Linked DNA regions of Homo sapiens. The protein of the gene in region 2 purifies or fractionates together with the protein of the main gene of each other region. This does not show direct contact. Each region holds a gene or a part of one and is shown on either strand. Other genes may lie near its edges.

What was found.
Region 1: the proteins of SCAF11 (region 2) and MZT2A purify together in Homo sapiens (affinity purification with mass spectrometry; one large-scale study listed by BioGRID and IntAct). This does not show direct contact.
Region 3: the proteins of SCAF11 (region 2) and TUBGCP6 purify together in Homo sapiens (affinity purification with mass spectrometry; one large-scale study listed by BioGRID and IntAct). This does not show direct contact.
Region 4: the proteins of SCAF11 (region 2) and SRFBP1 purify together in Homo sapiens (co-immunoprecipitation; one large-scale study listed by IntAct). This does not show direct contact.
Region 5: the proteins of SCAF11 (region 2) and ZNFX1 purify together in Homo sapiens (affinity purification with mass spectrometry; one large-scale study listed by BioGRID and IntAct). This does not show direct contact.

The regions. Positions count from the first base shown.
Region 1 is NC_000002.12:131,488,230-131,494,683, forward strand, and holds the start of MZT2A (mitotic-spindle organizing protein 2A), read right to left. Parts: upstream 4,169-6,454; 5' UTR 4,148-4,168; coding exon 3,978-4,147; intron 3,796-3,977; coding exon 3,647-3,795; intron 3,008-3,646; exon of another isoform or gene 2,931-3,007; intron 2,664-2,930; coding exon of another isoform or gene 2,484-2,663; intron 1-2,483. UniProt on the Homo sapiens protein: Required for the recruitment and the assembly of the gamma-tubulin ring complex (gTuRC) at the centrosome.
Region 2 is NC_000012.12:45,927,075-45,932,774, reverse strand, and holds part of SCAF11 (protein SCAF11), read left to right. Parts: intron 1-1,162; coding exon 1,163-1,269; intron 1,270-3,915; coding exon 3,916-5,700. UniProt on the Homo sapiens protein: Plays a role in pre-mRNA alternative splicing by regulating spliceosome assembly.
Region 3 is NC_000022.11:50,223,618-50,229,317, forward strand, and holds part of TUBGCP6 (gamma-tubulin complex component 6), read right to left. Parts: intron 4,412-5,700; coding exon 4,290-4,411; intron 3,461-4,289; coding exon 3,382-3,460; intron 3,226-3,381; coding exon 3,116-3,225; intron 2,762-3,115; coding exon 2,670-2,761; intron 2,573-2,669; coding exon 2,433-2,572; intron 2,327-2,432; coding exon 2,177-2,326; intron 976-2,176; coding exon 894-975; intron 804-893; coding exon 715-803; intron 640-714; coding exon 524-639; intron 1-523. UniProt on the Homo sapiens protein: Component of the gamma-tubulin ring complex (gTuRC) which mediates microtubule nucleation.
Region 4 is NC_000005.10:121,971,975-121,977,674, forward strand, and holds part of SRFBP1 (serum response factor-binding protein 1), read left to right. Parts: intron 1-2,221; coding exon 2,222-2,310; intron 2,311-3,340; coding exon 3,341-3,413; intron 3,414-5,700. UniProt on the Homo sapiens protein: May be involved in regulating transcriptional activation of cardiac genes during the aging process. May play a role in biosynthesis and/or processing of SLC2A4 in adipose cells.
Region 5 is NC_000020.11:49,253,024-49,258,723, reverse strand, and holds part of ZNFX1 (NFX1-type zinc finger-containing protein 1), read left to right. Parts: intron 1-1,059; coding exon 1,060-1,307; intron 1,308-2,776; coding exon 2,777-2,916; intron 2,917-4,074; coding exon 4,075-4,229; intron 4,230-4,912; coding exon 4,913-5,058; intron 5,059-5,700.

The DNA.
Region 1 (6,454 bases), on a different chromosome or scaffold from region 2:
TTTCCCTAAACTTAAATATAACGCTTGACTGAATTTATTTTTCCCTCAATGACTCCAGACTCTCACCAAGACAAGCATCGACCCTCTGTGCTTCTGGGGTTTTCTATTTCCCCTTCCCTGTGGGTATGAGTGAATCTGGTGGTGGTTGTTCCCACAGGCCGTCTGCATGGCTGGGGGACAGGCATCCAGAGGACCCAGGGTGCCTGCTGCAGCTCACAGAGGCAAGCTCGAGAGGGCCTGGCCCATAGCCTGGAGAACTCAACACCCGAGTCCTGTGGGAAACCTATGGCCTCCATGCCCCTCCCCCCGGATTACTCCGACAACCCCCCTGCCATATGGGGTGACAGAATCCTCCACCCCAGATTCTGCCATTACCAGGGCAGCTGGAGCTCTGTGTGGTCAGAAGCTGTAATATGTGGGCCTCAGAGAGCTCTCAGCATTCCATCTGTGGCCTCTGCCTCTCACTCAGCAGCACACGTCTGCCCCATTCCCCTCCACCTCCTCCTCAGGTTCCACTCTATCCCCATGGGGCCTCGGTGCCCTCATGTCGTGGCTTTCTGCCACCCAGCCTACAGGACCTGGGCTATGCTTCCAGGACACAGCCCTCGAGAAACAAATGACCCTGAGGGGCCCAGCACTCCAGGCCACTCCTGTCCTCGGGTAAATTCTCTTGGAGCCCCCATTCGCTCACATGGCACCCCCTAATCCTCCTGGCCCCTCTATGCCTGCATTTCCAGTGCCACAACCCCCACATACATCTTGACTGTGCCCCCCCACCTGCCTCCTCCTGCCCTGGGCCTACCAGCACCTGGACAGCGCTCTGCCTCTCCCATGCCCTCCCACTGCCCCAGCTCACACGTGTGGGGCTCTGCTGACCCTTCCTGCTCCACCCTGTGTAACCCTTGCTGCTCTCTGGGCTCTGAAGCCTCCTCCCAACTCCATTGCTAGTGGTTTTTCTTTTCCTTTCTTTTCTTTTTTTTTTTTTGAGACAGGGTCTTGCTCTGTTGCCCAGGCTGGAGTCCAGTCACAAGCTCTTGGCTCACTGCAACATCCCCCTCAGGCTCAGGCAATCCTCCCACCTCAGCCTCCCAAGTAGCTGGGAATACAGATGGGCGCCACCACCACGCCCACCTGGCTAGTTTTTTTTTTTTTTGAGATGGAGTCTCGCTCTGTCACCCAGGCTGGAGTGCAGTGGCGCAATCTTGGCTCACTGTAAGCTCCACCTCCCAGGTTCACGCCATTCTCCTGCCTCAGCCTCCCAAGTAGCTGGGACTAAAGGCACCTGCCACCATGCCTGGCTAATTTTTTTTTTGTATTTTTAGTAGAGATGGGGTTTCACCGTGTTAGCCAGGATGGTCTCGATCTCCTGAGCTCGAGATCCGCCCGCCTCAGCCTCCCAAAGTGCTGGGATTACAGGCGTGAGCCACCGCGCCGGGCCCTGCCTGGCTAGTTTTTGTATTTTTTGTAGAGATGGGGTCTTGCTATGTTGCCCAGGCTGATCTTGAACTCCTGAGCTCAAGGAATCCACCTGCCTTGACTTCCCGAAGTGCTGGGATTACAGGTGTGAGCCAGCACACTGGTCTCACTGGTGGTTTTCCTCACTGCCTCTCACTGGACTGAGTGTGATCATCTCACTTCCCTGCCACGCCCTCTGCCCTGAGAGCTAGGCCTGGCACCCAGAGCCCTGAGTGAGTGCTAAGTGAGCAGCAACATCTCCTGGAGTGACAAGAACTCTGTTCCCAGTTTCTCCCTCCTGCTGGACACTTGCCCCTCAATTGCTCATCTCAGCCTGCAGTCCATACACCCCTACTCCAGGCCTGTCCTTCAGGCCCTCTCCACCCTCTCTTGGGCCTGAGCTCTGGGTGGCAGTGAGGTGGCCGCTGTCAGGAGGCTCATGCAGGAGGCGCGACCAAAGACCCCTGGGCTCTCACAGGCCCCTGATCACACCTGGTGACACCTGGAAAGTGTCCCAACTCAGGAGTGAGGCGGGCAAGGGGGCTGAGTGCTGGAGTGTGGCCATGGGACCAGCACATGGCATCTGTGTGGCACTGCCTGGCAGACTCTGGGAAGGTGGGAGTCTCTGTTTCAGCCTCCAGACTTCCTGTCCAGGTAGGGGACAACTTCTAAGAGGCCGAGGCGTTTGTCACGCCTGGGGCTGTGCTCTCCAGCAGAGCACACTGCACCCGGCTGGCTGTCTTCCCCTGGAGAGGGGCTCTTTACACTCACCACTAGTTCGCCTCTGGGGTGTGGGGATGTTGGTCCTGTCCCCGGATGCCAGCCCGACTGTGGGGTCTAGAGACTGCCACACCATGTCTCTAATAAACCGAGTCAGAAATAGTGCCCTGTGGCTAAGCGGCAGGGCAGCGGTGGCCTGCATGATCCTGCCCTTGCAGCTCAAAGCTGCTTGGGCCTCTTGGGGCCATGCAGTTTCCATGAAAACAAGGAAGAGCACCAACCCCCAGAGATAAGCCAATAAACGCAACCTGCAAAAGGAGAGAACAGGCAGCAAGAGAGGCGGAGGGAACCCGGGGGGCCTGGAGAGAGAGGTGAGTGTGTGGCAGCTGGGCTGTGGAGCATAACCAGAGAGGCCGCAGGCTGCGGGCTGGAGGAAAACGAGGGCCTTGCAGGGGGGCTACTGTTCCTGGCAGAGAGAAAGGAGGCCTCTGGAGGTCAGAGAGAGACACAAAGAGAGCAGACAGAGCGAGGGTCAGTGAAGAGGCCAGCACGCAGGTGCCCGGGCCCTCTTGGGTCAGCGGGCGTGGGTGCCCAGGCCCTGGCACTTCCCCCATGAAGGCAGCCTGCTTTCCACGCCTTCTCATGATGCCTGTGAGGGTCTCCTCCTGCTTCCAGGCAGGGAGCCAGCTCTGGGCCTCCTTCCATTGGCCTGGGAGGTTGTGCTGCATTTCAGAGAGAGCCATCGGGAGCAGAAGCAACATGCGGAGAGGATGAGCAGGGACGGAGGCTCCACCATGACACTCTCAGTCCCAGCATCTCCTCAGCCCAGTCACCACACTGGAGAGGGAGGAGGCCCTTCAGACCCCGCAGGCCTCTGCACCCTGGGAGTTCCGCGTCTAACTCTCTTCCTGCAATCATCAGAGGCAGGAACTGGGCCCAGGTGGGGTAAAGGCAGGAAGACGTCTGCCTGCCCTGCTCCCTGGGCACTTCCCTGGATGCTGTATACCACAGGACAGAGATCGAGACTGTCTTTTGAAAAACATTTAGAGACAGGATCTCACCCTGTCACCCAGACTGGTCTCAAACTCATGGCCTCAAAGGATCCTCCCGCCGTGGGGTCCCAAAGATTATAGGCGTGAGCCACGGCGCCCAGCCCCAAACCGTCTTGATTCCCGACTTTGTAGGATGAAGGCCTGAGTGAAGAGGTGGGGAGGAGCTAAGCGGAGGAGCCCTACCCAGCCTGGACCACCCTGGGGCACGCACTCTGCGTCCACCTGACCTGGACGTGCCTCCTAAGGCTGGCAGCGAAGCCCAGGAGCAGAGCCCACGGATGGGCCCTGCAGGTGCTGGGCCTAGACCGACCGACAGACAGGCCTGGCCACTCAGGGCCACGCCGCCGCTGTGCCGCGCCTGCCCCCTCCCCGCCCGCCACCCCCGCCACTGGGGCAGGGACAGCGGGCCCAGCTCTGACCTCGGGTCTCGGGCACGCTCGACGTGGGCAGAGACACGGCCGCAGGGTCCTGGGGCTCGCTCGCTAGCCTCTGCCCGGCACACATGGACTTGAGCATCTGGAAGACGGCGAGGGGGGCCACGTTCAGCTTCAGCAGGTCCACCAGGATCCTGGCGGGGACAGACGCGGGGCCGGTGAGCCCTCTCCGCCCGGCGCGGCCACCTCCCTGAAGACCGGACAAGGACGGGGGCGGGGGCAGCGGGGGCTCCTCCCGACCAGCGGGCCGGGCGTACCCGGAGAGCAGAGGTCGGGGGTGTCTGGCGAGCATGCGGCCCCCACCCGCCCCGCTCACTTGAACACGTCGGGGTCGATACCGCCGCCCGCCGCCTGAGCCAGCTCGTACAGCTCCATCTCCTCGGTGCTCAGCACCTTCTTGCGCCGCAGCGCCAGCTTCTGCCGGGCCGCCTCCAGCCCCGGGGGCGCCGCCGACCCCGGCCCAGGCCCTACGCCCTGCGCCGCCATCCGCGAGGCCCGCCGAAAGGTGCGCCCCGCCCCGCCGCGCCCCCTAGCGGATGCGCCCACCGCCCTCTCCCTGCAGCGCCAGCGTCTGGCCTCCCGGGCTGCCCTGGCGGGAGCGGCGGGAGCGCGGGGACGGGGCCGCCTCCTCGGCGTCATTGGAGCCCAACAGTTAGTGGGCGCTCACGGTGTGCTGAGCGGCGCGCTAGGCGTCGGGAGTGGCATGGCGGACTGCAGGGGCCAGCTGCTTGGCGGTCAGGGCGTCCCTGATAGACTTGCATTGGTCGTGCTCGCTTAGGTGGCAGCACCCAGCCCAGTGCCAGGCATACATTGGGCGCTCAGTCAATACCTGTTTCAAGAAAGCGTGCAATTTTCTGGTCCGCACCGGTGCACCACTAGGGGTCGCTCTTCGGGGGGGGTGGGGGGCACTAATCAACAACCCTGCTTACGCGCACGCGCATTCCTTGCTAGGGAGAAAGTGCGTGAGCCCTACCTTGGGGCGCCAGAGGCCGCCACAACGCAGGCGCATTCAGCTAAGGACCACTCCCTCCCCCCGCACTCCTGCCTCGCCATTTCCCCTCCCTGGCCGGCCGGCCGGCCTTCTTCGCTTTGCGCACGTACCTTTTGAGGTAACGGCCCAAAGAGGTAGAAGCGCTTTTCCCGCCCGGCCGCGGGGCGTGGCTCTGCGCGCAGCTTGATGACGACGTTTTGGCGCGGTGGCGGAATGGCGGCTTCCACCTCTGAAGCGGGCGACGCTATGGGTCCCACAGGTGAGTGGCGCGGGACGCGCGCGTGAGACGGTCCGACGCCCTGGGGGCTTCCGCGAGCCCCTGCGGAGGCCATCTCCGTTCCTCCGCGAGCCCCAGGACTCGGGCGGCCCGGCGGCTCTGCCCAGGCCGGGCAGGCTGGGGAGTGGAGGGCCCCGGCTGAGTCTTCCTGCCACTCCTCTGGGCCATGCCTTTGTGCCACCTTCCCGCGCCGCTCGTACACTCTGTTCTGGTCCGGTAGGTGTTCGTTGAAGGTTACCCGTCGTTGAAGGAATTGAGGGAAGGAGAGCTTTGTGTTGAAATTGAGCCTTGGGCTCAACAGGCGGTGTGGGAGGAAGAGCCGGGTGTGGGTCCCAGCTCGACCCTTCCCCTGTGCGCTCCACATCTCCGAGCCTTGGTTTCGGAGGCTCCCGAAGCCCAATTCGCAGGAGAGTTGGAAACAAGTGGGCGCGTGCTGTTAAGGGAGGTCTTGGCATGACAGAATTTGCTTGGAATGATTAGCGTTGCCCAAGGGCTGTCGCTGTCAGAAAAACAAAACAAAACGAAACAAAAAAAACAAACGGGTCCGAAGCAGCTCCTGGAGAAAATAGGTGTTGGAGAGTCGCGACGAAGTGGACTCTAGGTGCATGGCACGCAGAGACCTGTGACGGGGGAGGGTGGCCATGGCAGGGTCAGAGAACAGGGGTGTGGGAGACACCTCTTGGGAGTTCTCGGGTTTGAATTTCCTCTCTTGGAAAGTTCCTAGAAATTCCTCTGGGCCTCATTCTTTCAGTCGCTGCCCATGAAAGCTTTTACTGAGCAGAGATGCTCTCCCCTTCATCATCTCTAGAGCTCCGCACTTATCCAGCAGTCCACAGTTTAATGCTGCTTTGATCATTTTGCAGTAGTGCAGTGTTTTCTTGACCAAGTGCATTAGGACTGAGGCGTTTTTCTTTAACACTGCAATTGATAGCTAGGTTAAGAATTGAGGCCGGGCGCGGTGGCTCACGCCTGTAATCCCAGCACTTTGGGAGGCCCAGGCGGGTGGATCACGAGGTCACGAGTTCAAGACCAGCTTGGCCAAGATGGTGAAACCTCGTCTCTAGTAGAAAATACAAAAATTAGCCGGGCGTGGTAGCGGGCGCGTGTAATCCCAGCCACTTGGGAGGCTGAGGCAGAGAATTGCTTGCACCCGGGAGGCGGAGGTTGCAGTGAGCTGAGATGGCGCCACTGCACTCCAGCCTGTGCGACAGAGCGCAGAGCGAGACTCCGTCTCAAAAAAAAAAAAGGAAAAGAGAAAGCTGGCCGGGCGCGGTGGCTCACGCCTGTAATCCCAGCACTTTGGGAGGCTGAGGCGGGCTTATCACGAAGTCAGGATATCTAGACCATCCTGGCTAACATGTGAAACCCACTCTACTAAGTAAATACAAAAGACAATTAGCCGGGCGTGGTGGCCGGCGCCTGTAGTCCCAGCTACTCGGGAGGCTGAGGCAGGAGAATGGCGTGAACCCAAGCGGAGCTTGCAGTGAGCCAAGATAGCACCACTGGACTCCAGCCTGGGCGACAG
Region 2 (5,700 bases):
CATATTCCTCTCCTCAAAAATGTTTTTCTAAATAACTATTTGATCAAGTGCCTACTCTACCCTGACACTCATGACTTTCTGTAATCTAGTTTTTTATTTCTTAGTTTATTCTTGAAGCTACTAAGATGGTGCTAGATAAATAATATATACTTAAATCAAGCTCCTAAGTAAAGATTAGGGTCGCTGCCTGAGTTTTATATTAATTCCTATAACATATTATGACTTTATTTTATATGTCACTATAATATAGTTCTGTATAGGGCATTCACCCTCTAAGAATGATGGCAGAACATAATAGAAGTCAGATGAAGAATTCCAGATGTATGTACTATGAAACCCTTCCTTATAGTTACATATTTTTATACATGTACAAGTTACATTTTTTTTCCCATGCTTCTCCTACTCCAGAATCTTACCTTATATTGAATCAGATAGTCTTTTGTTAGGAGACCTAAATGAATAAGAAAAAGAAAGCCAAGAAGTGGTTTGGGTTTGAATGGAGAAAATTTGAAGGAGGGGGTCTTAACAGGTCTCTAGGGACACTGAGAACTTTGAAGAGCCATCACCAGGTCGAGGAATTTTAGAATATAACATAGTGGTATAAATCAGTTCCTTGGTTGCCTGGAAAGGAGGGAGAAGGATACAAAGGAGTGTGAGGACACTTTCTAGGGGGGCAGAAATGTTCTCTTTCTTGATTGGGGTGGTGGTTAACACAGACATATATATATATATATGCACACACTTTGGTAAAAAGTTAGCAAATGTACGCTTAAAGTCTGCATTTTATGTTGAATTACACCTCAAAGTTGATTTTATTTTTTTAGAGTAGTGAAGAACATGATGAAAGCTGGAAAAATTCTTGACAAAATACTACATAAATTATTTCAAAGAGAAACATCTGTGTTAAGTTGCTTTCATCTTTTCTTTGCCATGAATTTATCAGAAAAACATACTTTTAAAGGTTTTTTTCTGAATTTTAGCCAATTGGTAGCTATCTTTAGACAAGGAGTAACCTTGAATTTACATTTTTAGCTATTTGGGCAAAAAACATTTAAGCACTGTATTTTAATATTGCTAACCTGATTTAGAGAATTAATACTTTTAAATTGGTGGTTTAATTTTTTAAACCATTTAAACAAAAATGTCTTTATTATGTTTTCAGAATTGGTTTTATACCCTGGAATGTTGAAACAGAAGTCCTTCCTCTCATTTCTTCTGTGTTGCCAAGAACTATTTTTCCAACAAGTACCATATCTTTCGAACATTTTGGTAAAGTTTGTGAAATCATTTTCTATTTTAAAAATTATTATTATTAGTTTCTTCCAGTTTCATAAAAATGTGTGTTTGATGACTTAGAAAAGCTGTAAAGTAAGGCATAGTAACTTGTAAATACGTCTATAAATATTTGGACAATGACTTAACTTTAGAATTGCTTCAACTAGAGTGTATGTATATATAGATAGATAGATACATAGTCTCTCCATATATCTATATACACACACAATGGAATATTATTCTGCCACAAAAAGAAGGAAATCTTGTTTGTGCCAACGTGGATGAACCTGGAGGACATTAGGCTAAGTGAATAAGGCAGGCACAGAAAGGCACATAACCACATGATCTCACTTATATGTGGAATCTAAAAAAGTTGATCTCGTAGAACTAGATTGTAGATTAGGGGGTGGGGTAGGTGTGGTGGGGTGGAGGTTGTTGGTCAGAGGATACAGTTTCAGCTGGATAGAATAAGTTCTAAAGATCAATTGTGAAACGTGATGACTATAATAATACAGTTGACCCTTGAACAACATAGGTTTTAACTGGGTGGCGACATTATACATGAATTTTAAAAAATAAATATATCGGAAAATGTTTGGAGATTTGCAACACTGAAAAAACAGAAAAATCGCATAACCTATAAATAGTGAAAAAAATTAAGAAAAAGGTATGTCATTAATGTATAAAATATATGTAGGTACTAGTCTATTTCATCATTTACTACCATAAAATATATACAAATCTATGATAACAAGTTAAAATTTATCAAAACATATACACACTCAAACCACATGGTTCCACCATTTGCAGTCATAAGAAATGTAAACAGCTGTAAAGATACAGTATTAAATCATAGCTGTGTAAAATTAAATATAGTACGTATTTACCAGTGTAACAATTTTTGTGGCCGCCACCTGTTGCTATTCTGGTGTACTCAAGTGTTGTGAATGTCTGGGAGGTTGAGGCTACAATGAGCCATGATTGCACCACTGCACTCCAGCCTGTGCAACAGAACAACAGCCTGTCTCAAAAAAAAAAAAAAACAAAAAAAAAACAAAACACAACGCAAAACCTGGTTTAATGTAATCATCTCCATGTGAGCATTTGTCTTTCTAATAGATTGCATATCACAGTAAAAAGTGATCTCTTGCAGTGCATGCATATTTTTCATAGTGTTTAGTGCAATACTGTAAACCTTGAGTAACACCTTTGGGACCCACATAAGTGCCATTAGTGATGTAGGAAGTGCTCCCAAGAAGCAAAATTATGGCTTTATAAGAAGAAGTTTAATTCCTTGATAGGAACAGATTGAGATCTATAGCTGCAGTTGCCTGCCATTTCAGACAGATGATTCATCTTGTAAACAAATGATATAAACTTAGGGTATCAATAAATACAGTACAGCATTATAATGTATTTTCTCTTATGATTTTTGTAATAACCTTTTCTTTAGCTTCTTTTATTGTAAGAATACAGTATGTAACACATAACATAAAAAATATATTAATTCACTGTTATCAGTAAGGAGTCTGGTGAATAACAGTTAAGTTTTGGGGAGTAAAAACTGTTTCAATTTTTGACTGTGTTGGGGGTTGGTGCTCCTAATCCCTGTGTTGTTAAAGGGTCGACTATATTGTATTTTTGAAAATTGCTAGAGAGTGGACGTAAAGTGTTCTCACTAAACAAATTATAACTATGTGAGGTAGTGCATATATTAAGTAGCTAGATTTGGTCATTCCACAATGTATATGTACTTCAAAACATCATGTTGTACATGAGAAACACAGTTTTATCTGTTAGTCAGTTTTAAAAATAAAAAATATTCCAACTAGAAACTCTGTTGTAGTTTTTGAAATTACAACTTGGAGGCTTTGAGGAACTGATTAGAAGTCTCCTTTCTGTTTCAGGCTTTCATATCCAAACCATAGATCTTTAGAAGTAACATCTGTTAATTAATTATTAATAAATAGTTTGAGTCTTTATTAATTCATGGATAACTTGACCATTTTCTCTCTCCTTTTGCTTAGATAATCCCAGATCATGGCCGGGCACAGTAGCTCACGCCTGTATTCCCAGCAGTTTGGGAGGCCGAGGCAGGCAGATCACTTGAACTCAGGAGTTTGAGACCAGCTTGGGCAACATGGCAAAACCCTGTCTCTATTAAAAATACAAAAATTAGCTGGGCATGGTAGTGCATGCCTGTAGTCCCAGCTACCTGGGAGGCTGAGGTGGGAGGATCGCTTGAGCCTGGGAGGTTGAGGCTTCTGTGCGCGATGATTGCTCCAGTGATCACGCCATTGCACTCCAGCCTGGGTGACAGAGTGAGACCCTGTCTCCAAAAAAAAAAAAAATTAAGCAAGTAGCAGTTACAAGACCAAAAGTTATTTTCCTTTTTTTTTTTCTCTATAAAATTGCCCATTTGGACCAAATCTAGTTATAACTTATTTCAGTGTCATTAAGAAAGTTGATGAATAAGTCATATTACTCAGATGTTAGTAGCTATGCATTTATTAATAGTTTTATTTATAAGTATTTAGTTTCACTCTGTTGCAGACTATTTTATGCTAAAATTAGCTAAAGCCAAATTACTATTTCTTAAAACATATTTTTTACTTTTTTTTTTTTTTTAAATATTATTAGGTACTTCTTGCAAGGGATATGCATTAGCACATACTCAAGAAGGGGAAGAAAAGAAGCAAACTTCTGGTACATCAAATACCAGAGGATCAAGACGAAAACCTGCAATGACAACTCCTACAAGGAGGTCTACACGTAACACAAGAGCTGAAACAGCCAGTCAGTCTCAGAGATCCCCAATATCAGACAATTCTGGGTGTGATGCCCCAGGTAACAGTAATCCATCTTTAAGTGTTCCCTCTTCAGCTGAGTCAGAAAAGCAAACAAGACAGGCTCCAAAACGGAAGTCTGTAAGAAGAGGAAGAAAACCACCTTTACTGAAAAAGAAACTTCGGAGCTCTGTAGCTGCCCCTGAAAAATCATCTTCCAATGATTCAGTAGATGAAGAAACAGCAGAATCTGACACATCACCTGTGTTAGAAAAAGAGCACCAACCAGATGTAGACAGTAGTAACATTTGTACTGTGCAGACTCATGTAGAAAACCAGTCTGCTAATTGCTTGAAAAGTTGCAATGAGCAAATAGAAGAAAGTGAGAAGCATACTGCAAATTATGATACAGAGGAAAGAGTAGGATCTTCATCTTCTGAGTCTTGTGCTCAAGATCTTCCTGTGCTAGTTGGTGAGGAAGGGGAAGTTAAAAAACTCGAGAATACAGGTATAGAGGCTAATGTTTTGTGTTTGGAAAGTGAGATTTCTGAAAATATTCTTGAAAAAGGAGGTGATCCATTGGAAAAGCAAGACCAGATATCTGGACTTTCACAATCAGAGGTAAAGACAGATGTATGTACAGTTCATCTTCCAAATGATTTTCCTACATGTTTAACATCTGAAAGCAAAGTGTACCAACCTGTATCTTGTCCCCTAAGTGACTTATCTGAGAATGTAGAGTCAGTGGTTAATGAAGAAAAAATAACAGAGAGTTCCCTAGTAGAAATTACTGAACATAAAGATTTTACACTAAAAACAGAGGAGCTTATAGAGAGCCCCAAGTTAGAATCTTCTGAGGGTGAAATTATACAGACAGTGGACAGACAATCTGTTAAGAGCCCAGAGGTTCAATTGCTTGGGCATGTTGAAACTGAAGATGTAGAAATAATTGCAACATGTGATACTTTTGGGAATGAAGATTTCAATAATATTCAAGACTCTGAAAATAACTTACTAAAAAATAATCTTCTGAACACCAAATTGGAAAAATCTTTAGAAGAAAAGAATGAATCGCTGACCGAACATCCTAGATCTACAGAGTTGCCTAAAACACACATTGAACAGATTCAGAAGCATTTTAGTGAGGACAACAATGAAATGATACCTATGGAGTGTGATTCATTTTGCAGTGACCAAAATGAATCTGAAGTTGAACCATCTGTAAATGCTGATCTTAAACAAATGAATGAAAATTCTGTGACACACTGTTCTGAAAATAATATGCCGTCTTCTGATCTTGCGGATGAAAAGGTTGAAACTGTTTCTCAACCATCTGAAAGCCCAAAAGATACCATAGATAAAACCAAAAAGCCTCGTACTCGAAGATCTAGATTTCATTCTCCATCTACAACTTGGTCACCCAACAAAGACACTCCACAAGAAAAGAAGCGGCCCCAGTCTCCATCTCCCAGAAGAGAAACTGGGAAAGAAAGCAGGAAGTCTCAATCACCATCTCCTAAGAATGAGTCAGCCAGAGGCCGGAAAAAATCCCGTTCTCAGTCCCCAAAAAAGGATATTGCAAGAGAAAGGAGGCAATCTCAGTCTCGGTCTCCAAAAAGGGATACTACTAGGGAAAGCA
Region 3 (5,700 bases), on a different chromosome or scaffold from region 2:
AAAATACAAAAAACTAGCTGGATGTGGTGGCGGATGCCTGTAACCCCAGCTACTCAGGAGGCTGAGGCAGGAGAATTGCTTGAACCTGGGAGGCGGAGGTTACAGTGAGCCGAGATTGTGCCACTGCACTCCAGCCTGGGTGACAGAGCAAGACTCTGTTTCCAAAAAAAAAAAAAAAAAAAAAAACGCCCTGTCTCTGTCAGACCAATAACAGACTTAAAAATAAATAAGGAAGGATGTTCAGAAAGAAGATAAATAAAGAGACAGGACCCCAAACAGTACGCAGGCCTCGCCTGGACCCTAATCCATACAAACCACCACAAGACAACGCGCAGAACAGCTAAGGATGCCTGGATAAGGCAGAACGCCCACAGCCACTCTGGGTTCAGCATATTGGTCTTTCTACCTTAATGTATGTTTGAAGGTTTTCAAAACAAAAAGTAAAATCATCAGTAAGATTAAGCCAGAGCTATGGGGCCCCTGCCGCACTGCACCCCTGGGCCTGGAGCCCGGGCTGCCCTACCTCGCCTTCCTCTCCAGCTCCTCCTCCAGGGACTTCAGCCTTCTCTCCCTGTCTCGGAGTTCACGGGCGTAGCTGAAGTCATCATCCAGCTCCTCCTGCCTGGCCGCCTGGCGTCGCTATAAAACACATAGAGCCTGGCCTGTGAAATCAGAACTGACAGGCGTGACCCCGCAGGGACAGGTCCTACCCACCTCCTGGTCCTTCACAAATTGTTCTTTCAGCCTCTGAAACTGCTCACGCTTCCGGGCATCCAAGGCCATCCGTTCTGACATCTGCCGGTCTACATTGGGACAGTAAGGGGCGCACTGTCACAAGGAGGCCCCAGCAAGGCCCCCCGGAACTGCAGAAGGGAGGACTTGGGGCCACTCACCACTCAGTGCACTCAGGACCCTGGATGCTGCTTCCCGGGCATGAGCGATTAATTCTTGTTTTGCAATTTCCATACGTAATTCCTGAGAAAGACAACTGGTAATCAAAGCATCCTGGCCGGGCGCAGTGGCTCACGCCTGTAATCCTGGCACTTTGGGAGGCCGAGGTGGGTAGATCACATGAGCTTAAGAGTTCAAGACCAGCCTGGACAACATAGCAAAAACCCATCCCTACTAAAAATACAAAAATTAGCCAGGTGTAGTGGCAGGTGCCTGTAGTATCAACTATTTGGCGGGGGTCAGGGGAGCTTAGGCAGGAGGATCCCTTGAGCCTGGGAGGTGGAGGCTGCAGTGAGCCATGTTCGAGCCGCTGCACTCCAGCCTCCTGGCTGACACAGTGAGACCCTGTCTCAAAGAAAAAAAAAGCAACCTAATCCTCTGACCCCTCACCTAGGATGCCCAGGACACCTGTGGACTCAGGGCCGGCAGGGGAGACACATGGTCCAAGGGTTCGAGGAGGGACCAGGTGATGGCAGGACACCGCCCCCCCGCCCACCCTCCCCCACCCCCAGGCTCTCAGCAGTGGCAAGGCTGGTTCCAGGCCATGGACGGGAGCTGACCGGCTCTCACAGAGACATCTGGGGCTGAGGACCCCAAGGCTGTGTGTGCCCACCCTGGAAGGAAACCAAGAGGCCTCAAGAGGGGGCTTCCCCGCTCAGCCTCTTAGGCCTGCCCCTGCCCAAGTATCCCTGCTGCCCACCAGGCACCAGGCCAGAAAGGGTGTTCCTGGGAATGGCACTGATTGTACCACCGAGCCCCTCCCAGAAGACACAGGAGAGGCGTGGCCCGTCCCTGACACACTGTCCCTTCCCAGCAGGAAGGGGGCTTGCAAAGGGCGAAGGCCATCTGGAGTGCAGCCAGGACTGTCTGTCCACAGCTGGCGGGCCCGGGGAGGCCCCAACGGAGTTTCCCACGCCAGCAAAGCCTGGGCTTCAGGCTGAGCCACCCAGACCCAGGAGGAGAAGTCAGAGCCCCTGCCTGGCATCTGGCTCCGGACATTCATCTCAGCTCCCCCTTGGCACCCACCCTTCATCTCAACTCCCCGTTGACACCCACCCTTCATCTCAACTCCCCCTTGGCACCCACCCAGGCCACCGCCAGGACAGAAAATGCCAGAAGGGAGGCCCCCATCTTGCACAGCCCTCATGTCCGCCCCACCAACCTGAGACCCCAGGAAGCAGAGGCAGGGGCGAAGAAAGCCCCCGAGACCTGTGGTGCCACGCACCTTCTCCTCCTTGCTGACAGAGCTGTGGCGGGCCACCCTCTCCATGCGCCCAACGTAGACGGCACAGTCCTTCTCAATCTCCTTCAACTCCTCAAGGGAGAAAATCACCGAGATCCGGGGGACAGGGACGTCGGACCAACAGAGGTAATGCTGCCAAAGGGGATGCAAGCACAGCCACCAGCACTCAGCCCCAGCCTCATACTCAGCCCCAGGGAAGACCGGCCCCTCTCTTCCCCACACATGAGCCCCTCCTCACCCGGGGGCAGCAGAGCTTCAGCAGGTTAATGGTCTTTCCGCAGACGTATATGTCGTGGGCAATGTGCTTCAGAAACACGGGAACACAGTCCTCCACCTCTTTGGAGATGAGCACGTAGCCATGTGTCCAGTACAACTTATCTAAGGTAGGGTGAACACCACGGTGGCCGGCATGGCCATGGCCCTGAACCCAGGCCCACAGGCACGGACCCCTGCCCCGCAATCAGCTGCCACCTACCTCGGAAGCTGAGGTACTCGTGGTTCACCTGAATCATGAACTCGCCATAAGCGTCTCTGAACACCCCGCTGTACACCCAGTCGTGGATGAACCTGCAGTGGGGGAAAAGCAGGGGTAGATGTGGTCAACGGAGAGGTGGGTGGGGCGTGGCTGTCAGTGAGGGGTGGGACAGGGGCGTGGCTGTCAGTGAGGGGCAAGTGGGGGCGTAGCTGTGAGAGGTGGAGTGGGGTGTGGCCATCCATGAGGGGCGGGATGGAGTGGGGGCAGGGTGGGGGGTGTGGAGTGGGGGCAGGGTGGGGGGTTGGGGGCTCCTGCCCAGTCCACCTATCCTGCCCTCCCCTTCCTGTGTGACCCCCACATTCAGCAGGTGTCTGACAAGGGACCGCTCTCAAGTGTCTGCCTGGTGGGAGTGCGCGCCCGCCGCGCCTGCCCAGCCCACTGCCCACCGGGTGTAGGGCTCGCAGCTGGTCTTCAGCAGGGACAGCAGTACAGGGTAGTGCTCGTTGCTGCAGTTGTGCAGAGCCTCCTGGTAGAGGTAGGACAGCAGCTTCACGCCCTGCAGACCGCAAAGGGGGTGGGGGGCAGCTCAGCGCACCCAGCGCTGGGAGTGAGGCGCAGCCCTGCCGGCAGCAGCCCTCCAGGGACACGCTCAGCCACCCCCGTTTCCTGGAGCCCACCAGGCTGACACACTCGGCAGGGACGCACAACTCACGGTGGGAAACGCGGCCCTGGGGCCTCCTCCACAGGTGCCCGGGAGCACAGCGCCAACGCCACAGAGCTCGGCCAGGTACCTAGACCCAGAGGCAGGATGAGACCAGGTGACCGGGCTCAGGGTTCCCAGGCCTGGATCAGATCGTGAGCAAAGTCTCCACGTATCTTTATGCTCCCTGGGGCAACTAACTTTAGATGCAGGCTTTAAAAACCACAGGCACCCCAACCACCCAGAAACGGGCTCCCTGCAGGACTCGTGTGCAGCCCTGTGCCCCTGCGCTGTCCACACACACCCCACTGAAGTACCCACACCCAGCAGGCCCTCCCTCCCAGGATCTGGCCAACACACGAATCACCCTGATCCTCCCACTTCTGGGGGCTGCACCTGAGAGCCCCTCCCATCCACACAGTGGTACCAAGCATCTGCCACAACTCGCACCCTTCACAGCCCAGCTCCCCTGCCCCACAGTGTCTCAGCCCTTGGGTCTCCTCAGCGCTGCCACACTCTGCTCCTCAGCCTGGAAGGTCGCCTCTCCCACTGCTCCCAATGCCCAGCTCCTCACTCTTCCTTCTCTGATGGCACCTGCCAATAGCCCCCGAGCCTGGTTGCTCACTAACCAGCTTGTGTGTACCGGACGCCACATCTCCAGGGACCCTGTGTGCCAATTAGGCAGGAGCCACCGGACCTGGAGGGCCTGGATGGGGCCAGCTGTGGTGGGCCCACGGCAGACACACCCGCTCAGCACCGGGCACCTGGTGAACTCGGCCGGCCAAGGGCCATCCGGTCGCCTGCTGAGGGCTGTTCTCACAGGCCCTCCTTGCCAGGGAGCAGGGCAAACCCTCCACCACCCAGCAAGCCCCACACCGCTCCCGCAAAGTCCCCTGCTCAGCCGCCATGCTGAGGCTCACCTGAGCTGCCGGCCAAGTTTCTTGAAGAGAAAACCAATGGTGAGGAGGCTCAGGGTGGGCGGAGTGGAAAGGACGCAGGCCCGGTAATACTGCAGGTACCTCCTCAGGCCACTGGTGAAGGCCTGTGGGCAAAGAGGCTGGGAGGAGGGCGGCCAGGCACATGGACGCAGCCGTGCCCAGGGCCTGAGGGGCACCAGTGCTGGGAACAGCGCTTTGTTTCTTGCCTCAGCTCTGGGCTCCATTTCCAAGCAATGGGCCTCTGTGAGCCACACCCCGCCACCGGGCCAGGTGGAAATGCGGCCCATCCACAAGAAGCCAGAAGCTGTGGCCCACCACCAACCCTTCCTCTCATCTGAGCCCAGCTGCCCCAGGGGCGCCCACCACCAACCCTTCCTCTCATCTGAGCCCAGCTGCCCCAGGGGCGCCCACCACCAACCCTTCCTCTCATCTGAGCCCAGCTGCCCCAGGGGCATGGCAAAGGGGCTGGGGGGGAAATGGCGGCCGTGCTCTGTGCACAGACACTAGTGCTGTGAGGGCTGCAGCTGCTCCGACCACAGCTGTCTCAGTGGCACCAGCATCCTGGGCAACGCCACAGCAGCAGGCCCTGCAGGTCACACTAAGACAGGGGCACCCTGGACCAATCTCAGTCCACCCACCCCAGGAGCCGCCTGGCTATGCCTGCCAGATGAACAAGAACCACAGTCCAGCCCTTCTCAGCGTCCCCTGCTCTGACCCCTTCTCCACCATCTCTAGCTCTCAAGTCCCCCGGGGCTGAGCCTCTGCCTAGAAGCTCTCCCCGCCCCGTGCAGCTCCCACCATGCCCACCTCCACAGCCCATCTAAAACCTACACCTCACCACATCACCCCACCCGACAGCCCCTGCTGCAGCAGCAACAGTCAAAGGAGGCTGCGCTGCCTGGCTCCTCCAGGGCTCTCTGCCCACCTTCCCCAACACCCTCCTCTCAATCCCCCAAACCCAAATGCCCCATCATCCACCTGCCTATTCTCTCCCACTCAAGGTGCAGCCCCTGTCCCATGGGCCTCTTCCCAGCACATGAGCCAGCTTCAAGACTCACCAAACAGCAGCTTCCGGAGCCAGACTTGGCTCAGAACTCCCAGCAATGTAAATTCACCCAACAGGAGGGCCCTGCGCTGTCAGTCATCCACAATGTGCCGGGCCCACTGGGGAGCAGGCAGCAAGAGCCCCACTCACGCCTTTCCTGCCCTGCGCACCCCTTATGCTGGCTGCACCTGCCTCCTACACACCCCAGGGCCCACACAGCCCAGGGCCCACACACATCTGCCCCAAGTTTCTAGTGAGGTAAAACATCCTCACTGACCCATCCCTCAAGAGCCACTATCGGGTTTCAGATGTTAGCAAGGAAAGAAAAGGTTTAGACTCTCTGGTCCT
Region 4 (5,700 bases), on a different chromosome or scaffold from region 2:
TGAGTTTGGACGTCTCTTTCTAAAAGCTTAGTTCTCCACACAACTGAAGAGGGAGTGGTCCTAGTGAACCATGTAATGAGGATGTTTATTTAGTCTCTAATGAAAATGACTCAATCATGTTTAAAAATCAGTGGGAAACAAATGCATTAAAAGGAAGAGAATGACAATGCTATGGTAAAGGGATAATCCATAGTAGAGGTTCTAGGAAGGCAGAAGAGAATGGGCTCTAAAAGACAGTTAAAAGATAAACTCAGATATGTGTAGTGGTATTTCTTATATTGTAACTTTATTCGTAAAGGAAGATGGGTCATGGAAGTACATTTGCATTCATGGTAGTAGAAAAATGATGGTTCCCAACTGATAATTATTTTCTCCACACGATTGAAAGAGAGAAAGGAGGACGGAGACTAGAGGATTTAGGAGAGTAGGCAAAAGCTTAAAACAGGCATTGTAGAGTGAACTGAACAGAAAAATACAGGATGGCTAGGAAGAATGGGGGTCCACTTGAGGTTAATTATGATGAATTTATAGTAGACAGAATGTTACAAGTATTTGCTGTTGGCATATGACAATGAAGAACTCAGAGTGTTTTTTTCATTCAGGACTACGGTTTCCTCACCAGAGGGGCAGGAGTTTAAGAAATTGGCAGATGTTATCATGTATCTAAACTGCATAAAAAGAGGAACATTAAGTGTAGGAGTCAGTGGATTGGTGGTCCTAATGAAGTCAAAGATGGTTGTGGTGGGTGGAGTTGAACAAGCAAGCTGATAGAGGTTGTGATCACAGTGTGGAATATTTGAATTAATGGTTTTAGAAATTGAATATTATGAGTGATGACAAGGTTGACAGTGTGGCCATGGAAGTGGATGGCTGAGATAGAATAGATTAGGTCTTTAGAAAATAAGTAAAGAAGTGAAGATATAATTATCAGATGGGCTATTCAAGTGGACATGCAAGTTACACAGAATGATGGCAGAACTTAGGGTGTAAAGAAATTGTAAGTTGGTTGCTAATATCTTCAGTGAATAAGGGAGTGAATGACATGAAGGGTAAGAGAAGATATTAATTAAATGGAAGAGCCTTAAAGAAACAGGATGATGTTGATAATGTTATTTTGGCAAGAAGAATTTGAGGAATTTTTTGTGCCAGGCACTCTTGCAGGGCAAAGAAAACACTATATAAATATTACAAGACTCCTGTTTTCTAGGAGCTTGCTGTCTATAGAAAAAGACAGCCACATGAGCCATTAGTAACAGTGCAGTGAGGTAGATGCTTTAATGACAGAATCTGTATAGTGGGGACCCCAGGGATGGAGTGGTTATCCTTAACTGAAGAAGTCATTGAAGGTATCACTGGAATGACTATATCTGAACCTGAATTTTATATAGTTCCTAAAGTGAAGAAGGGGAAGAAGGACATTCCAGGAGTAATTTTTAAGATGTATGCCTCGTAACTGATAGATGAAATATAAACTCCGTAATTACATGCCATTGCACTGAAAGCTGTTATAATGTGTATTTTTTTTATAACTATAATTTCCATTTTTTGGCCTATAGCTCTGCTTTTTGTTCTTAGAGTTAAACATTGTTCTCCAGTAGGGTGATTTAAATTATGTATTTGTATGTGTGTGCATGTGTGTGTGGGGGGGGGGCATGTATGTTTACATGCACATATGCTTGCACACAATGCCCTTGTGTTTGTGGATCTTCTTTTAAAATTATACTTGAAATAATTTGTTACTAAAAATAATGAAAGATTTGTTTTATAAATATGTAAAATAAATTGCTAATTAAAAGCTAATTTGCTAATTAAAATAGTCATTCAACAAATTAAATTCCTACCATTATGAGTGAGGCTTTGTTTTAACGGTGGGAATACAAAGATGAATATGACAGGCTGTGATTTCAGGGAACTCACTGTTTATTATATTCCAAGCCCAGCAAGATATAAGTGTAACATTAAAATACTTATCTCGGGTAATACTGTGACTTTTTAAAAAATTATAACTTGTTTTTCTTAAGCTCTCAGACACATTTTTAGACTGTTGATTTATTCCTTCACTATTTATGGAAGAGGTTTGATTTCATCAAGCTACGAATATAGTTAGACAATAAAAGTAGTTAAAGTGGTAGACTAAGTCTCAAATATTAAGACTCAAAATAAAGTGTGTTTGTTCCTGAAGTAAGTGCCTTTCTTCTAATTATTGCTTTATTCTTCAAAGGTTGTGAAGATGAGAAAAGAAGTGAAGAGAATTCGAGTTTTAGTTATCCGAAAACTTGTCAGGAGTGTTGGCCGACTGAAGTCAAAAAAGTTAGTCATTTAAAGTAATGATCTTGTGACTAATAAAATGTCAAAAGTTGTTTTTATTTGATACTTTAAAATGTTTAGGGTGGGATATAGAGAAGTAATTAAATGTCTTATACACCATTTTTGTTTTGTATGCGGAGATGATGTGAGTGAGATAGAATGTGCTGTGTCAGCATGCCCTTCTATGGTTTGGACCATCATTGCTCAAGATACAGGATGAATTTTTTTGCTGCTTTTGCAAAACTCTCTTTTGGTCTTTTTAGAATGAAATTCCCTTGGGCTTGTGTGTTTTGTGTTATCAGAAGTTATTTTAAGATACTGATACAGCTTAACAAATCTAGTAATACCTTAAGAATCAGTTTTGAAGATTTTATATCACATTTTTTCTTGAATTGCTAAGTAATTTGAAATCTTCAGTACCTTATGAAAGTGTTTATTAGAACATTGTGTTCCATGTAATTTTTTGGAAAAATACAATATTTTGTATTTTCAGTATCACTAGTGTTAGTGAAAAAGTATTTTATTTATAGTTCTTTTTATGATGTAAGCATGAATACTTAGTCTTCAAGTATGTTTTGTTCCTGATTAATTTCCTATTCTTTCATAAATATGTCAGAATATAGCCCTTCTTTATTTTTTCCTTAAATGCCAGAGAGCAAATTTTCATTTGATAAAATTATAGTCAAACTCTAATTGTAAATTATGACATTTATATTACATTAAATACAATGTACGATTGATTGATTTAAAAAAGTGTTATTAAGGAACTAGAGAAGGCAAACTATCAAAAGTAATAGTCATTAATACAATGGCAAGACAGTACTTATTTTTGCCATTTTCCAACATATGGGTTTGGTTAGTAAATTGAGGTGTGTTTTGGGAGTGGGGGAAATGGACAGTGTAGGATAGTGGCGTGTTTGTTATTTAGAGATTTATTACGCTTTTCTAAAAAGAAATGAAGTGATTATCCATTACACTATAAGTCTAAAATTAATGCTTTGCCTGGCTACATATCGTAATGTATTTTTTGCAGGGGTACTGAAGATGCACTGTTAAAAAACCAAAGACGGGCGCAAAGATTGCTTGAAGAAATCCATGCCATGAAGGTAAGGACTTGTGTGGGTGTGTATGTGTGTATGTTTCTGAGTATCCTGTTATCCTGCATTTTGTTTGTGTGTGGTATTGCTTATTTGAATATTCCCGAGAGTTGCGTAAGACATCTTGTATCAGTCTGTTTGGTGAAGAATGTAGCACATTTAGAAAATTGTAACATTTAAGCTTGCATTTTTCTGTTTTTGACTGAATTTGTTAAAGTGCTAGGCTAATTTGAGTCAAAATTGTGCCAAACTAAATTCATCTATGTTTAATAATGCCTCCTGCCTCAGGTTTTTATTTTTACTGTAACTTTAGCACGAAGTCAGTTCAAGAATTAAAGTCTTCATGCTATTTGGGAATGTGGATGGTGATATTGGTGGCTGACATCATGCTTTCCTTGTTGCCAGCTCAATAAATTTTTATGTATTGGTATCGGCATTTTATTCAGTTCTGTAGTAACTTCAAATAAAATTAGTGTTAGACCAATGTGATCCCATATTTTTGTTTTTTTTTTCAGTCAGACTCTTCACTAGCATAATTTTTAGGTCTTCTTGCTGCTCTTACTTTGAGGAAACTTTCATTTACCAAATGACATGACATTAAATGTCTGGGAGACTGTTTTACTGTAGAACTTAAAAACAACATTTGGTCCCAGCAATTTTCTTAATTGCAGGGTCATTTTGCATGCATGTTTGCCTATTATATTTTGGTATAACTTTCAAGTTTTGAATTAAGTAAAAGAGAAATAAAACTCTCTAACTATTTTAATTGAGTTAAGTTATCAAAGATTCTCAGCCTTTCTTCCTTTTAAACGGATAGTAAAGTGTTTAATAGGACAAAGTTATCCCAGTTAATCTGAATAAAAACATCTAGGAAACGACTCTTTGATATGAAGTATATTTGTTTCTTGTGTTCTTCCTTCCCTCTGCTGCACACTATTATAAAATTCATGGAATCCATCTGATATAACTTTTATTTCTCAAGGTTATAATTCCCTTTTTATTCAGTCCTTCAGGAAAAAAAAGTCTTCTGTATTTGACTGTCAGTGATCATTTGTGTCTCTGTGGTTTGCAGATTATTTAGTTTTTTCATATACCTTTTTAAAATGATATTCCTATGAGAAATAAAATCTTTAGAGATTTTGTCTTGAGAATAGCAATAAAATAGGAAGTTACAATTTATCTCTTTCACTTTCTCTTAACCAAGGTTCTTACTAAATTACATTGCCTACCTAAATTTTTCCCTGTAATTTCTTCTGAATAGTCATTTTTGTAGTCTTAAATTATTCAGAGGCTTTGAGCTACTATATAATTGCTGATTTTATTTTACCATGGAAAGAATGCAGTGTGTGTGTGTATGCATGTATATATATATATAATATATATATGTGCATACACATACACATACAATGTATAGTTGGCTACTCTGACTTTAACTTCTTTTGTAATACTGTTTAAAAACTGGAGTAAACTGGAATTTGTTAAATTTTTTATATATATAAAAAATATATACATACACACACACTACATTCTTTCCATGGTTTGTTATATATAATAACTTGTATGTGGTGTATGAAGAGTTTGAGAACAAAAGATACTCAATCTTTAGAATACTTCCCTTTTGTAAATTTCAGTGATACATTTGATTAATTAGAAAGAAAAGTTGTCCTTTTTGATCTAAATGTAAAGCCTGTTTTCTGTTTCTTGTTTTGAATCTCATCAGCAAAGGGAAATCTGATTCAGTGATAAAGTTTGTAGGTTTACAAGATTACCACATCACTATCGTGGTTTGGTTTGGTTTGGTTTGGTTTGATTTGTGTTCTATTTTTCCCTGTGATTGCGCAATGGAATGGTTGCATCATAGAAAGCCAAATTCATAGCCTATGTATTCCTTAAATTCATAAAATTCATAGTATATATATGTCTTGAGTTTGTGGCAGGAGTTAGGGCAGGCTGGGTTGGCTACTCTGACTTCAACTTCTTTTGTAATGCTTTTTAAAAACTGGAATGAATTTAAATATAAAATGAATACTAGAAAGACTATATATTTGCTGTTCTTACGTGTCAAATTTTATTCCTTATTTATGGTTCTTTTACAAATTTTGTTGTCTTTTCTAAACAAAGCAAATAAATAAAGCATTTTTCTTAATTAAAAGGTCATTTGTAATTTTCTTAGGAAATGGTTATTACCTACTTGGGAGTATCAAATAAATGATGACAAAACAAACTCTCAATCTCAATTAAATTTGGAGAAAAGACCTCTGCTCATTTATTTTTCCAGAGAAATTTTTTCCTTGGC
Region 5 (5,700 bases), on a different chromosome or scaffold from region 2:
AGTGATTCTCCTGCCTCAGCCTCCCAGGTAGCTAGAAATACAGGCATGCGCCACCACACTTGGCTAATTTTTGTATTTTTAGTAAAGACAGAGTTTCACCGTGTTGGCCAGGCTGGTCTCGAACTCCTGACGTCAGGTGATCCACCCACCTCAGCCTCCCAGAGTGCTGGGATACAGGCATAAGCCCCACGCACAGCCAAAACCTTTCTTTAAAAGGCATATATTCGTATGATTTTTTAACGTAAAACGTAACAAAAAGTATATAAGGAGACCTTAAGCCTTTCCTAACTCTCCTCTCATTCCTTTTAGTTTCTCTTCTCAAAAATAATCACATAGGGCTGGGTGCAGTGGCTCACACCTGTAATCCCAGCACTTTGGGAGGCCGAGGCAGGCCTGAGGTCGGGAGTTCGAGACCAGCCTGACCAACATGGAGAAACCCTGTCTCTACTAAAAATACAAAATTAGCTGGGCGTGGTGGTGCATGCCTGTAATGCCAACTACTCGGGAGGCTGAGGCAGGAGAATCGCTTGAACCCGGGAGGTGGAGGTTGTGGTGAGCCAAGATTGTGCCATTGCACTCCAGCCTGGGCAACGAGTGAAACTCCGTCTCAAAAAAAAAAAAAAAATCACATAAACCCTTGATAATGTCTTCATGCATCTGAGCTCTTGCAGGTGCCGTCTTCTGTCCCTTAGCTTCAAGAGTTTCCATCTCTGGCCAGGCACGGTGGCTCACGCCTGTAATCCCAGCACTTTGGGAAGCCAAGGCGGGCAGATCACGAGGTCAGGAGTTCGAGACCAGCCTGACCAACATGGTGAAACCCCATCTCTACTAAAAATACAAAATTAGCCTACAAAATTAGCCAGGCGTGGTGGTGGGTGCATGTAATCCCAGCTACTCAGGAGGCTGAGGCCGGAGAATCACTTGAACCCAGGAGGCAGAGGTTGCAATGAGCCAAGATCGCACCACCGCACTCCACCCTGGGCAAAAGAGCGAGATTCCATATCAAAAAAAAAAAAAAAAAGAGTTTTCATCTCTCTCCTGCCTGTTTCTCTCTCTTAGCCCAGGCAGAAGGGGATGAGGAGGAAGAAGGGGAGGAGGAGAGTTCGCTGATAGAGATCGCAGAGGAAGCTGACCTGATTCAAGCAGACCGGGTGATTGAGGAGGAAGAGGTGGTGAGGCCCCAGCGGCGGAAGAAGGAAGAGAGTGGAGCAGACCAGGAGTTGGCTAAAATGCTTCTGGCCATGAGGCTAGACCATTGTGGCACTGGGACAGCAGCTGGACAGGAGCAAGCCACAGGAGAGTGGCAGGTAAACTCACTTCCTTGGGTTGAAACAGGCCTGAGAGTGTTCTGACCGCTTGTTTTCCCCCACTTCTGATACAGTATATTCACTTCACCATTACAATTAGCTAAGTACCTGTATTACAGCCTACCCCTGGTATGAGATGGCTTTAGTGATTCCCAAGGATATAAATACGATGGTTCTTCAGAGGGCCTCTGGCAAGAAATGCCAACTTAGAAAGACAGGAAGCAGGTAGCCAAGTGCTTCTGTAGAACTTGTGGAAGAATGTAGCACATATGAGTCAGGTCAAACACGGTCTCAGTACTTAATGCCTTCAGGAGTGTTGTTTTCTCTATTTCAAATGAGTTTGTGAACATGTACTAAGATTTTAGAGGATTAAAGTAAGCAATGAAGCGAGACCTCCAGGCTGGATGGAATATTCCTCCTTCATTCAGCCTGGAATTTGACACTTCTCTTAAAGCCAGAATTGTATGAATGCCCAGGTGTCTTCATGTAGCCTTCCCTCTGCTCCTTTTGGTGGAGCCTAGTAGTCCTCACTGTTTACCATGCATAACTATGATGATCGAGGATTAGATATTCAAAATAAGAATTTGTAAACCTTACCAATGATTTGAGAACTTTCAAGGGCAACTTTGGATGCAGTTTTCATCTGAGTGCTGGCTTTGCACCTGATCTAGTTCAGTTCAGTATCACTATATGTGGTGAGCGGAGTCATGATCTCAATTCTTAGAAGCACAGATTCAGCATCTCTCCCAGGAGGCATCAGGAAAGGTTGATTTGTTTCATTTTGAAGCAGCGGGAAGATCTTTATTTAGTGACATCTGTCTGACTTGCGAGCCTTCTAAAGGCTCATAGCCTCAGACTCAGTGACGGCCAGAAGAGAGCACTTTCTCATAAACAGTGCTTTCCACCACTTGTTAAAGGTACTGTGTTGATACGATGGCAGTAGGACCGTTTTAGCAGGCACTGTGCCAAGTCCTGTGTGAAGCACCAGTTGCTAGGCACTGGTTGTACAGCATTCAACAAGAAAGTACCACCCCCATGACTTTCATGGCATGCATTTTAGGAACAAGAAACAGGCTATGGTCAAAGATGTTTAATGATAACTAGTGCTAGTACTAGTATAAATGCTTTCCACGTATTTACTCCTGACAAGCCAACAATCCTATAAAGAGATACCATTATTATTCCCATTTTATAGAAGGTGATACTGAGGGACACAGAGGTTAGGTCATTTACCTTACTAGGTCCCACAACCTAGTAAGAGGTAGAGTAGGGCTTTGAAGCCAGGCAAACTGGCTCCAGAGTCCTTGTTTAGCCACTCTACAGTGGAAGAGCTGTTGGGAGAATGTAAGACACTTGACATTAATCAGTGATGCCAGCCCTTTTTCTTACGTGCTGTGACCCCTGCCTTGGGCTTAAAACCAAGCCTGCCTCTGCTCAGACAGTACCCTGCCTGGTATTGATGTCTGCAGACCCAGCGCAACCAGAAAAAGAAAATGAAAAAAAGAGTGAAGGATGAGCTTCGCAAACTGAACACCATGACTGCAGCCGAGGCCAACGAGATCGAGGATGTTTGGCAGCTGGACCTCAGTTCTCGCTGGCAGCTTTATAGGTACTGTGTTCCACATCTAGCCAACCCATGTAGGGAGTTCCTCTTCTGTTCCTAGAACATTCTCCACCTCCAAGACCTTCAACGATGTTAACTAATTATTGATTGAGCACCACCACTGAGCTGAGTGATAGGGATACAGCCATGGGATAGAATAGACACTTTGCTCTACTTTCATGGAGCTTATAGAGTCTATCCAGGGTAACAAATTAATTATTACCTTCGTGGAGCCTATGGAGTCTATCCAGGGTAACAAATTAATCACGTAATTCCACAAATAAAAAGTTACAAATGGGTATAAAAACTCAGAAAAGAACAGAGAGGTAACAGGCACAATGACTCACACCTGTAATCTCACCACTTTGGGAGGCTGAGGCTAGAGGATCTCTTGAGGCCCAGGGTTCAAGACCAGCCTGGGCAACATAGTGAGACCTCATCTCTACAGGAAAAAAAAAAAAGAGTAGGAGAGGCCGGGCGCAGTAGCTCACGCCTTTAATGCTAGCACTTCGGGAGGCCGAGACAGGCGGATCACAAGGTCAGGAGATTGAGACCATCCTGGCTAACACAGTGAAACCCCGTCTCTACTAAAAACACAAAAAATTAGCTGGGCGTGGTGGCCGGTGCCTATAATCCCAGCTACTCGGGAGGCTGAGGCAGGAGAATCGCTTGAACCCGGAGGTGGAGGTTGTAGTGAGCCAAGATCACGCCATTGCACTCCAGCCTGGGTGACAGAGCAAGACTCCGTCTTTTAAAAAAAAAAAAAAAAAAGTAGTAGAAAGCCGTTGGAAAGTTTTACAGCGATTAGTGACATCATCAGTTTTACTAATAAAATAAATACTCTATGGAGAATTAGAGGAGGGGAGGGAAATTAGGCAGGGATGCTGCAGCTGGGAGAATTCTTCCCAAAGTTTTTAAAGTCTCTTATTTTCTTCCCATAGTTAACCTTTGTTCTTTATCTCACCCCTTTCCTTAGCTCCTGACTACTCTGCACATCTTTTTGTTGGGCATTTTGGATTCTTAGGTCCCTGAATGTATCTCTCTGTTTGTCACTATGCTCCAAGGGTCCAAGGTTCACTTCATACACTGGGCACACTGAAGGGCGTTCTTCCACCTTCTCAAAGAGCATGTGGCTTTCTTTCCTTGGTTCTTCCCATTCTCCAGGCTCTGGCTACAGTTGTACCAGGCTGACACCCGCCGGAAGATCCTCAGCTATGAACGCCAGTACCGCACATCAGCAGAAAGAATGGCCGAGCTGAGACTCCAGGAAGACCTGCACATTCTTAAAGATGCCCAGGTTGTAGGAATGACAACCACAGGTAAGAAACTGTGGAGAAATTTGCCTGTTGCATCTAAGTTCACTTCTGGTGCCAGATTATCTAAGGACAGGTAAAGAGGAGCTTCTTTGGTAGGTTAGAGGAAAATACCATGAAAAGCTACTGAAAGCACCCATATTTTGAGAACTCTTGGTGAAATTCACTCACTTTCGCCAGGCGCAGTGGCTCACGCCTATAATCCCAACACTTTGGGAGGCCAAGGCAGGTGGATCACCTGAGGTCATAAGTTTGCAATCAGCCTGGCCAACATGGTGAAATCTCATCTCTACTAAAAATACAAAAATTAGCTGGGTGTAGTGGTGGGTGCCTGTAATCCTGGCTACTCGGGAGGCTGGGGCACAAGAATCACTTGAACCTGGGAGGTGGAGGTTGCAGTCAGCTGAGATCGCACCACTGCACTCCAGCCTGGGTGACAGAGTGAGACTGTCTCAAAGAAAAAAAAAAAAAGAAAAAAGAAATTCACTCACTTTCTCCTGCTGGGTTTGAAACTCCAACAGTGACCAACACAGTTTTAATGTTCTGGAGACCACCCAGAACACTATAAGGACCAGCTGTCGCTGATGCAGGTTCAGGGAAGATACAGAAGTGGATTCCCAGAGGCCCAGTGGCCCTGTGGGTCCTGTGCCTCAGCTCAGAGGAGCCTTTCTCTTCTTTCCTCACTTGAGGTGCTGCCAAATACCGCCAGATCCTACAGAAGGTGGAGCCGAGGATTGTCATAGTGGAAGAAGCTGCGGAAGTCCTTGAGGCCCATACCATTGCCACATTGAGCAAAGCTTGCCAGCACCTCATTTTGATTGGGGACCACCAGCAGGTAAAACGAGAGTCCCCCTAGAAGATGGGCTGGCTCTCCGTGGGGGTGAGATCATAAAGGAAGACCCTGGCCTCTGCTTCAACAGTCCTCAAGCTTATTAGTAGCTTCTTGTGATTCCTCTTGTCTTCACCTCCCACGTTCAGTCTAAGAGCAGATGCTATTAGATTTGGGGTATATTTTAGTGGCAACGTCATTTATTTCATCCATTCCCTCTGCTATTTACCTAGTCCACCATGGCCTCTTGAGTGGACTGTATTGTAATAGCATGCTCCTCAGTCTCTCTGCTTCCATTTTTGCTACCTTTTAATGCACTCTACATAAAGGAGCCAAAGTGAATTTTTTTAAAAAAAAGGTAGATAGATAATATCACTTTCCAGCTGAAAACCCTCCAGTGGTGTCCCATTGCACTTGCATAAAAATCAAGCTTCTTAAAGTGGCCCACAAAGGCTTATGTGATCAGGTTTCAGCTTATTTCTCTGACTTCATCCCATTTGCTCTTGGTGTCCCACTGTGTCCTTTCCGCTCCCCATTATGGATCTTGCTTTTCAAATGACTGAAGAACTGGCAACTTCTGCCATGCTAGTGTCTACTCAGATGTCACTGTTCAGAGGCCTAGCTAGAAAAAACCCACCATGGGGCACT